Homo sapiens: one gene and its partner. The protein of the gene in region 2 purifies or fractionates together with the protein of the main gene of each other region. This does not show direct contact. Each region holds a gene or a part of one and is shown on either strand. Other genes may lie near its edges.

Region 1 (4,891 bases), on a different chromosome or scaffold from region 2:
CCTTGATGTGATTTTTATTTTAAATAAATTTTAATAGGAAGAACATACAAAAATCCCACTTCCCTGCTCAATTCCTGCTTAATCCACTGCAATCGTGTGTTACCAACTGTTTGCCAAATGCCATTTAATTGCTAAGGAAGTAGAAAAATACTGCCCATAATTAAGATGGTTTGCTGGTTAGAGAGATACTTTGTTTCTTTTACCTTTTCCAGTAAGTGAGATCTAAAAAGGAAAAAACTGGTGTTCTGTTAGAACCAGAAGCCATCTCTGTATCTGAGCCGTCATCTGACTGGTTACTGTAACAAGGAGATTGAGCTGGGGAGGCACTTGAGGTGGTACTGTGAGCATCAGAATCTGCAATAAAGATTAAGAGAAAAAATAAAATTTTCAATTTCATTACATGTAATTGCAACTAAACCTCAGCATAAGACACTGTGAAAGAGTTGGTAAAAAAGAAAAAGTAAAAAATAATTCATTTTCTATGCACTACTGATATTTGAAGATATTCAGACTAACGTGTTTTTTAAAGAAGTGAAGAAGATGGAATAGACATACTTCCTATTCCTCCTGCTTATACAACTAAAATCCCTGGATATTATATATAAAACAAACCTGAGACTCCAAAAGGTGATGATCATCTAGGGAGCTCAAGACCCAAGGCAAGCCATGGTGGTAGGTTCCTTAGTTTTTCTGGATTTTCCTTTTGCCTCATAATCCCCAGCTTTGGAAGTGAAACAGCAGCCACCCAGAAATGCCAATGTGTACAGACAATCAAAACAACAACAACAAAACAAAAATCCAAAACCCCAATTAAAACCTGATCTCTCTAGCAAAGAACTAGGAAAAGGGCAGCCTAGCCAGACAGAAAACATTTCTGAACACTAACCTTCCTGTTCCAGCCAAACCCACGGAAAAAACTGTGGACACCTTTCCTAACCCCAGCAGAGGCTGAGGTGAAGAGCCTACATTTCCACCCTCACAAGACTTAGGAAGCACCCCAACACCTATACCAGGGTGGTGTCAGAGGAAGCCTAGCGAAGTCAGGATTTTCATTATGGCCCACTAAGTACAAGGCCACCCTCACCAGGTGGTAGCCTGAACTCTCTCCTGACATCCAGTAGTAACAAGGAGCCTCCCCCTCCCCCCAACCTCAGATGTCAATGGAGGTTGAGAGAGAAACTGGAATTCTAACACCTGGCGGTAAGTAATAGGGTGGTGAGGCCCCTCCCTCTTTCCCTGCCCTGAGGGGTGTCAAAAAAGCCAGTTAAAATAGAAGGGTTAAATAAGACCCAGAGTCTCACAACATAATCTGAAAATGTCCAGGTTTCAATAAAAAATTACATCAGTCCAAGAATCAGGAAGATCTCAAACTAAATGAAAAGGCCAACACTAAGATGACAAAGACATTAGAATTATCTGACCAAGATTTTAAAGCAGCCACGACAAAAATGCTTCAGTGAGCAATTATGAACATGTTTGAAATAAATGAAAACATAGGCTTGGCAAAGAAATAGGAAGCCTCAGTAAAAATAAGATAGAAAACTATAAGGAAAAAATAAATGGAAAATTTGTAACTGAAAAAAATACAATAAAGAAAATAAAAACCACAGTGGATGGGCTGAGCAACATGGAGGGGAGAGAGAAAACAAACAGTGAACTGGAAGAAAGAACAACAGAAATTGCCCCATATGAACGACACAGAAAACAAATGAACAGAGCAGGAGAAACCTGTGGAGCTTAGTCAAACATACATCTACATTCATGTCATTGCAGTCCTGGAGGGAGAGGAAAAAGAGAATAGAGGTGAAAAAGTACTCAAATATAGTGGCTGAAAACTTGTGAAATTTGGCGAGACATAAACCTAAGACTCAAGAAGCTAACCAAAGCCCAACAGAATAAACCCAAAGAAATCCATGCCAAAACACGTCATAATTAAGCCTCTATAAACTAAACCAAGAGAAAAATCTTGAAAGCAGCCAAAGAATAATGACATTATACCTATAAAGAGAAAACAAAAGATCCTGATTTAATAAGGAATAAAGGCAGTTCATTAGATGCAGAGCTAACCCTGATTTAATACTTTGCCTGTTTATGTGAAGATGTCAGATAAATGTACAAGCCAGAAAATAAGTTTCTTAGTTAACAGTCATTGTGCTATAAGGCTGTTGTACTGCCACGTCACAGCAAGAGCAGTATCATAAACCTCATAAACACAGGTGGGGCCTACCATACACCTTGCCCATCCCAGGACACGTTGACAGAGCAATCCTTCCATTCAGATAACCAATCAAGTACTTATTAAATATTTATAAGGCATCAAATCCTATGTTACATGCTGCATGGAAAGAAACAGACTAAAGAAAATTTGGGTTTTTTTTTTTTTTTAATTATTTTTATCTTTTGGTTTTCCTTGAGACCGGATCTCACTCTGTCACCCAGGCTGAAGTGCAGTGGCATGACCACAGCTCACTGCAGTCTCAACCTCCTGAGCTCAAGCAATCCTCCCGTCTCAGTCTCCTGAGTAGCTGGGACCACAGGCACACACCACCACACTCGGCTGGTTATTTTTTTAATTTTTAGCAGAGACAAGGTCTCGTTATTTGCCCAGACTGGTCTGGAGCTCCTAGCCTCAAGCGATCCTCCCACCTCGGCCTCCCAAAGTGCTGCAATTACAGGCATGGTCACACCTAGCCAAGAAAATGTTTTTGTTTTTGTTTGTTTGTTTGTTTGTTTGTTTAAAACAGAGTCTCACTCTGTCGCCCAGGCTGGAGTGCAGTGGCTGGATCTCAGCTCACTGCAGCCTCCAACCTCTTGGATTTTCATGCCTCAGCCTCTCGAGTAGCTACAACTACAGGTGTGCACTACCACACCCAACTAATTTTTTTATATTTTTAGTAGACAGGATTTCGCCATGTTTGCCAGGCTGGTCTTGAACTCCTGGCCTCCCAAAGTGCTGGGATTACAGGTGTGAGCCACCACACCCAGTCAAGAAAACGTTTTCTGAATAGAGCTCACAAATATTTTATATTTACAAATATTTACATAAAACAGCATAAAATTAGGTATCTAAAAGAAAGCCCCGTTAGTATTTTTAATATGTTAACTTAGCAAACAAAATCCTCAAGAGTAGCAGGTTTTAAAAAAATGAGTCTAGTGGGATGTTTAAGACTTCCTAAATAATTAACATCAACAGACACCTCTATGCTGCTGAGGAAAACTCACTCTCCTAGGAAGTGCTTAATATCTTTAAACTATTTGAAATTTCAATTATCTGACCATTTTTGTTTTGTTTTGTTTTTGTTTTCGGAGACGGAGTTTTGCTCTTGTTGCCCAGGCTGGAGTGCAATAGCACAATCTCGGCTCACCACAACCTCTGCCTCCCAGGTTCAAGCAATTTTCTTGCCTCTGCCTCCCAAGTAGCTGGGATTACAGGCATGCACCACCACGCCCAGCTAATATTGTATTTTTAGTAGACACGGGGTTTCTCCATGTTGGTCAGGCTGGTCTCAAACTCCCAACCTCAGGTGATCCACCTGCCTCGGCCTCCCAAAGTGCTGGGATTAGAGGTGTAAGCCTCCATGCCCAGCCCAAACTGCAATTTTAAGTCTTAAAAATTACGTAGGATTTAGAAGGCACCAAGGAGTGATTAGATGGCATCAAGTCGGTAGGGACAATGGGCAAAGTCAATGAGCAAAGCTGTGGAAGCCAAAAACACTCCAGGAACTGACTCAGCTCAAACAAAAATAGGACCTTCAAACACTTTCTAGGAATTCTCAACCATATTTTATAGTAAGCAGAAATCACTGCAGATTTTGAAAAGGATGACACAAAAAGAATAGCTAACATTTATAGACGAATTTATTTTGTTTTACAAAGCCATTTTTTACTTGATTATCCCCAGTTCTCTGATTAGAAAATTATGGTTAAACGTCAAGTGACTCCAGAGTTACACATTTGCTAGTGACAAGAGCTGATATTCAAATCCAGATCTGTAACTCTAGGTCCAATGCCTTTTCAGTACACCACAAAATGTCTTGAAAAGGGAATACAGGGCTGGGCACGGTGGCTCACGCCTGAAATCCCAGGACTTTGGGAGGCCAAGGAGGGCAGATCACCTGAGGTCAGGAGTTCAAGACCAGCCTGGCCAACATGGCGAAACTCTGTCTCTACTAAAAATACAAAAATTAGCTGGGTGTGGTGGCATGCACCTGTAATCCCAGCTACTCGGGAGGCTGAGGCAGGAGAATCGCTTGAACCCAGTAGGGGGAGGTTGCAGTGAGCTGAGATCCGTGCCACTGCACTGCACTCCAGCCTGGTTGACAGAGCAAGTTTGACTCCATCTCAGAAAAAAAAAAAAAGAAAGAAAGAAGAGAATACAGGCCTGGTATGTGCAGGATACACAGAAGCAAACACATAACCAGAAGCACAGACCATTTAGTGGGTGATATATAAAAATTCACATGTTTCCCAACTGCTTCAATGCACAAAGGTGCCAGCAATTTATACTGTACCTGGTGAACACCCTGTTTCAGTCTGAGCCTCCACAATCTACACACCTTATTATCAAAGGAATTTATTTTCAGTCTCTAACTACTACACAGCACAGTTTCATAATAAAAATCTAAAATTACACTGAATATTCCCTTAAGTAAGACAAAAGTGAGATATCACTTTCTCTATAATTAAGGGAAAGGGCTAAGAATATACATATGAATAATCAGTTCCTCGGCCTTCAAGTGATAAAAGAAAATTAATGTTTCCCAAATGTTCATTAAAACATCTAGTGAGGACTGGGTGTGATGGTTCACACTTGTAATCCCAGCACTTTTGGGAAGCCGAGGTGGGTGGATTGCTTGAGCTCAGTTTGAGACCAGCGTGGGCAACATGGCAA
Region 2 (4,891 bases):
GAGCGAGTAGTCAAAGAACAAGCATGCGTAGTTAGTGATCTGTTTACCTTGAAAATCCCACCCACACTTGAGGCTTGTGGAGTACAGGTGACTGTGCTCACAGGCACTTACCCAAGGAGACAGTCTTCTTTTGGCTTTGTCTTCTTGAACTTCTTGCTCCCACTGGTCCCACTCTGACTAAATGTCCAGCTTTCTTCATTCCAACACCCTTCATGATCAGAGGAGTTTCCTTTTCCTGAGCTTCGTTTTCCTAAGAAAATTCAAGAGAAAGGATGTGTTTGGTATACAGGTGGGCGAGGGGAGATGATGTTAGTTGCTTCACGAGCAACCTCTTGACTGCTTGCATATCATTTGCATGAAGCTAACTGTAGCTATTTCAGAGTTCTCAGAGTGATTCATGCTGGACCATCTTTAATAATGGAACATGCAGAAAAGTGACTTAGAGCTTCTGGGATTAATTGTCATGTAATTCAACAGGTATCACATGACTCAAAGAGACAGACTAACTGCTGCTAGCTTTTCCATTCAAAAACCAGCCAAGGTATGGGAGTCCTTTGCTGGTGGGCACTATTCAGTCTAATTTCCCTAAAACTCACTGAACTGACATCCCTGGGGATGAAATAGGCCCAAGTATCTTCATTTGGGGCTTGTTAGACCTAGGACTCACACATGTCTTGTTGGAATATAGCTTGGCAAAAGGTAGTCCTCCAGGCAGATGCTATATTTTAAAATAGAGAATTTATATAAAACACTCAATGGAATAAAGGTAAACAGGTTAACTATTTTCTGGACATTATAATGTTTTAAAGAGCTCTTCGGTTCAAATGATGCACCCGCCTTGGCCTCCCAAAGCGCTGGGACTACAGGTGTAAGCCACTGTGCCTGGCCCACTTCAGTTACAGCTTTGATTACCTAATGAAGAGAGAAAGGCAGTTGCTTCTAGAGCCTACAGGTGAAGATTCTGACAAACATACGTGCTTGATTCTCGAAATTCCACCAGTTTTCAAAACCAAACCTAAAGCTCTGAATATTTAATAATAATCTTTCAAAACAAACAGCCAGCCCATACCAGTGGGGGGAAAGAAGAGATTAAAATTACTTTAATTACATCCTGAGAACTACCTACAAAATGAATACACTTCCCTTAATGGTGCTAGAAAACATGTAAGTAAAGTAACAAATAATTATGATCTATAAACCATAAAGAAATATACAAATGTAAGGTATTATTTTGATACCATATTGTTTTTTATGGCAGTTGTTTTCAATAGGTCTAAAGGTGAAATTCTGTTTGGTTTTTGAATTCTTTTCAGGTTTGTAGAAGTTACTTACCTCTGTCAACATTAGCTCGCAGAGAGGTGAGCATGCCCTCAGACACCAGGGTTTTATAAAGAGCACCTTTGCAAGACCTCTCGGATTTCCTGGAACCACAAGTTTCTATTTTTCTGTGACAGTCACTGTCCTCAGGCTTGGCCTGTCCTGATAGGCTGGGTGGTAGTGCATCTTCCATAGGGGTCAATGGTTCTGCTTTTATACCCTCTGGTGTCTCACCAGAAATGTTCTTGCTAGCAGAAATACTAATGAAATCTGGAGGTCTTGACTCTTTGGTGGTGTCTGAGGATTTCTCCTTTGACATTTTCTTCTCTCTTGATTTCACTTTTTTCTTTGGTGGCTTGGCATCCAAAATGCTTCCCTTGCCACTTGAGGATGTGCGGACCTTCTTGCGAGGGGTATCTCCAAGTTTCTCTATGCCCCAGTCTCCTTTTGCGACGGCTTCAATGGTATATATGACGCTCTCAATGTCAGATTCCGAAGACTGCCTCTTTTTGCAAGTCTTCTTGGGTGTGGATTTATCATTTCCATGTCGATCCATTTTGCTTTTCTTCTTTTTCTTTTTTAGCTTTTCTGGCTTGTTTAATGCTGCGGGATCCTCAATGATCATAATTCCATGAGGATGGCACATATGATCCTTTCTACTGGGAACATCACTAATTATTATCTTGCTACTGGCAGAATAAGAAAAATCAGGAAAATGACTACATTTGTGATCTTCTTCTAACTCTTCCTTTCTAATTTCTTTGGGATCTTCCATTTTTATAGCCATTATGTCATCTATTTGCAATGCCTCAAAATTTCTCAATTCCTTAGAATCTCTTAAATTTTCCTTAGCCGATTTTTCAAATTCTGCTTCCTTCTGTAACCTAGTTTCATCTGTTTTCTCCATTTTAATTTCTTTTTCTTCCTTTCCCTTCTCTAATTCTTTAATTCTTCCACCATCGGATTCTTTTGCTTTTATTAGCTTTGATTCTTCCATTTTCATCCCTTCTGATGCCAGGCACATCTAAACAATTAAAACAAAATGGGAGAGCACCCGAAAGTATCCTTATTATTCCACCTTCAAAATTAAAGTTTTCAATTATATCTGTTTTAAAAATAATCAAAACACACTTTAAACTTTACAACAATCAGCCCACTTCTGCCAAACTAACTGAAATGAATCAAATTGATAGAAGGCTGTGGGCACTGTTATACAGTCATTTAACTCGTCAAACGTATCTCTGAATTGTCATTTTCTAGCTTCAACAGAAGCTTTTCCTATGAAAACAAGACCTGGAAGAAGGAGGAAGGGATTCAGAGTTGAAAGACCCAAGTCTGATTCTTAGTTTTGCTACTTATTAACTTTGTGACCCAGAATGAATCACTTACCCCCTCACTCCTCTGTGGCTTCTGTAAAAGGAAAACGATCCTAGGACCTATCTCAGAGGATTCTGTGTGGTCTAAGTGAAACGATGTACTTAACTGTAGCACAGGCTGAATATCCCTTATCCGAAATGCTTGAAAACGAAAGTGTTTCAAATTTTGGATTTTTTTTTTTATTTTGGAATGTTTGCGTTATATACTTACTGGTTGAGAATTCTTAAACCAAAAATCAGAAATCCGAAATGCTCCAATGAGCATTTCCTTTGAGCTTCTTGTTGGTACACAAAAAGTTTTGGATTTGGCAGTATTTTGGAGTTTGGATTTTCAGATTAGGAATGCTCAACCTGTATTTAATCATCCTCAAACTCTGTTCAGATATCTGCCTTTTCTTTTTTTCCAGGGGAAATGAGGAAAGCAGAAATAATTTCTACCTGTCCACTTGAAATTAGAAATGATATAACCATTTGCTAAACAATTACAGAAGGTTTTGATTAATGAACAAAACATTATAGGTCCACAAATGCTGATAGACAACTCTAAAGTCATAAATGCTCTGAGAACAAACTTGTTTTTGTTTTCTTAACTCACTTGCTGGCAAATTGATCTGATGTGAACTCAGCTGGCTGCAAATTCTGACCTGAACCAACCTGAAACTTTATAGTCTTAAATAGTTTATTTCACTTACTGTGACCATTCATACTTTTTGTTATTGGAATAGTGGTGCATTCAAATATGCACTGGGGAAGTTACTTAGTGTAATATGTATCTACTGTATAATTTTCCTAAAATCTGAAAGATTCTGAACACCAAAACCCATCTGGCCCCAATTTGGTTAAGTTTTTATATTTCTCATCAAAACTCCCCAAATTTCACGTACAGAACATTCAAGGGGAAAGTTGCCATTTTCCTCTCTGGCTCCCAGATACCTTGAAACTTTAATATAGAGCTATTTTTTAAAATGGGAAATTTAAGCTTATTGTAAAACCTGTTTTCAGTGCCTGGGTTTTCATTTATACACACTTAACTGCAAGGCTCCCAAAATGCCAGCCCCCATGGAGGACACTAATGATACAAAAATCAATAAGGTCAGGTCTGTCTGCCTTTGAGGAACTTATAAAGAGATTGATGATGCCGATTTGGTCAAGGGCAGCAAGGAAGTCTTAGTCATAATTTATTTTATCTACTTTGTATTAGCAACTTAGAAGGGAAAGAGTATTGGGGGTTGCTGAGTCAATGCAAAATCAAGCACATGAGTAGGAAACTGATCTGTTTTTAAAAACCATCATTTTATTAAATGGCAAGTTGTCAGAGATCATTACCATCTGTAAAATTCATTTTTAGGTGGATAATACATTGAATTAAATACCAGATGCTTTTTTACCTCATTTTTCTCTTAGTATTTTCAATGCATCACCAATCTTCCTGTGAGAATTATGTTATGATTAGTAAGTCTGGGAAGAAATTAAAGAAAGGGTGGAGAGAGGCAGACACTGCAATTAAAAAAAGTGAACATGACAAGAGCACACAGCCCTTCGGATCATTCACAGGGAAGACATGAAATATTAAGGATTCACAACAGAGCTGTCTTTTTCAGGAATTCAGGTAAGCTAACCTTTAGACCTCAGCAAGTGGCTATGAAGACTATGAACTTCTCTTTATTAAACATAACCAGAAATAAGCTCAAAGCAAAATGTTATCTTAATTCTGAATCACTGAAACCTTTAATATTCCCTGCATGTTTTACTCTTATGGGAGAATGTACTATTTTTATATCAATTTTGAAATAATTTTTATTTTCCTTTCTCAACTTCTATAGCCCTTCGTGAATAACTATCCCATGTGGGGGGAGAGAAATTATACTAGTTCTGGAAAAAAGGCTAGAAAGGCATTCTCAAGGTAAATTTTATGATTTTTCAGCCACTGTCACTCTGGTGGCTTTTAATAGGTCACTTCAGGAACATTTACCTTACCGGCGCTAGTTTTTAGTGGTATGCTGACAGTTTGCATTTGCACAGGTTCATCTTAGCAAACTTAATAATATTTTGCAAACTCTATTCTAGGCTTCAATATATTTCAAAATGATTCTCTCATCACCCCTGAAAGGATTCTACAGCTAGGAATGAAATGGAACAAACACAGACATTCACTCTGGGGACGTATTCTGGGAAATAGCACAATATTTCTTGTGTAG

The links. The genes of interacting proteins can lie anywhere in the genome.
Region 1: the proteins of BBX (region 2) and SINHCAF purify together in Homo sapiens (co-immunoprecipitation; one large-scale study listed by IntAct). This does not show direct contact.

Annotation. Positions count from the first base shown.
Region 1 is NC_000012.12:31,287,431-31,292,321, forward strand, and holds part of SINHCAF (SIN3-HDAC complex-associated factor), read right to left. Parts: intron 355-4,891; coding exon 204-354; intron 1-203. UniProt on the Homo sapiens protein: Subunit of the Sin3 deacetylase complex (Sin3/HDAC), this subunit is important for the repression of genes encoding components of the TGF-beta signaling pathway.
Region 2 is NC_000003.12:107,770,078-107,774,968, reverse strand, and holds part of BBX (HMG box transcription factor BBX), read right to left. Parts: intron 2,342-4,891; coding exon 1,333-2,341; intron 251-1,332; coding exon 112-250; intron 1-111. UniProt on the Homo sapiens protein: Transcription factor that is necessary for cell cycle progression from G1 to S phase.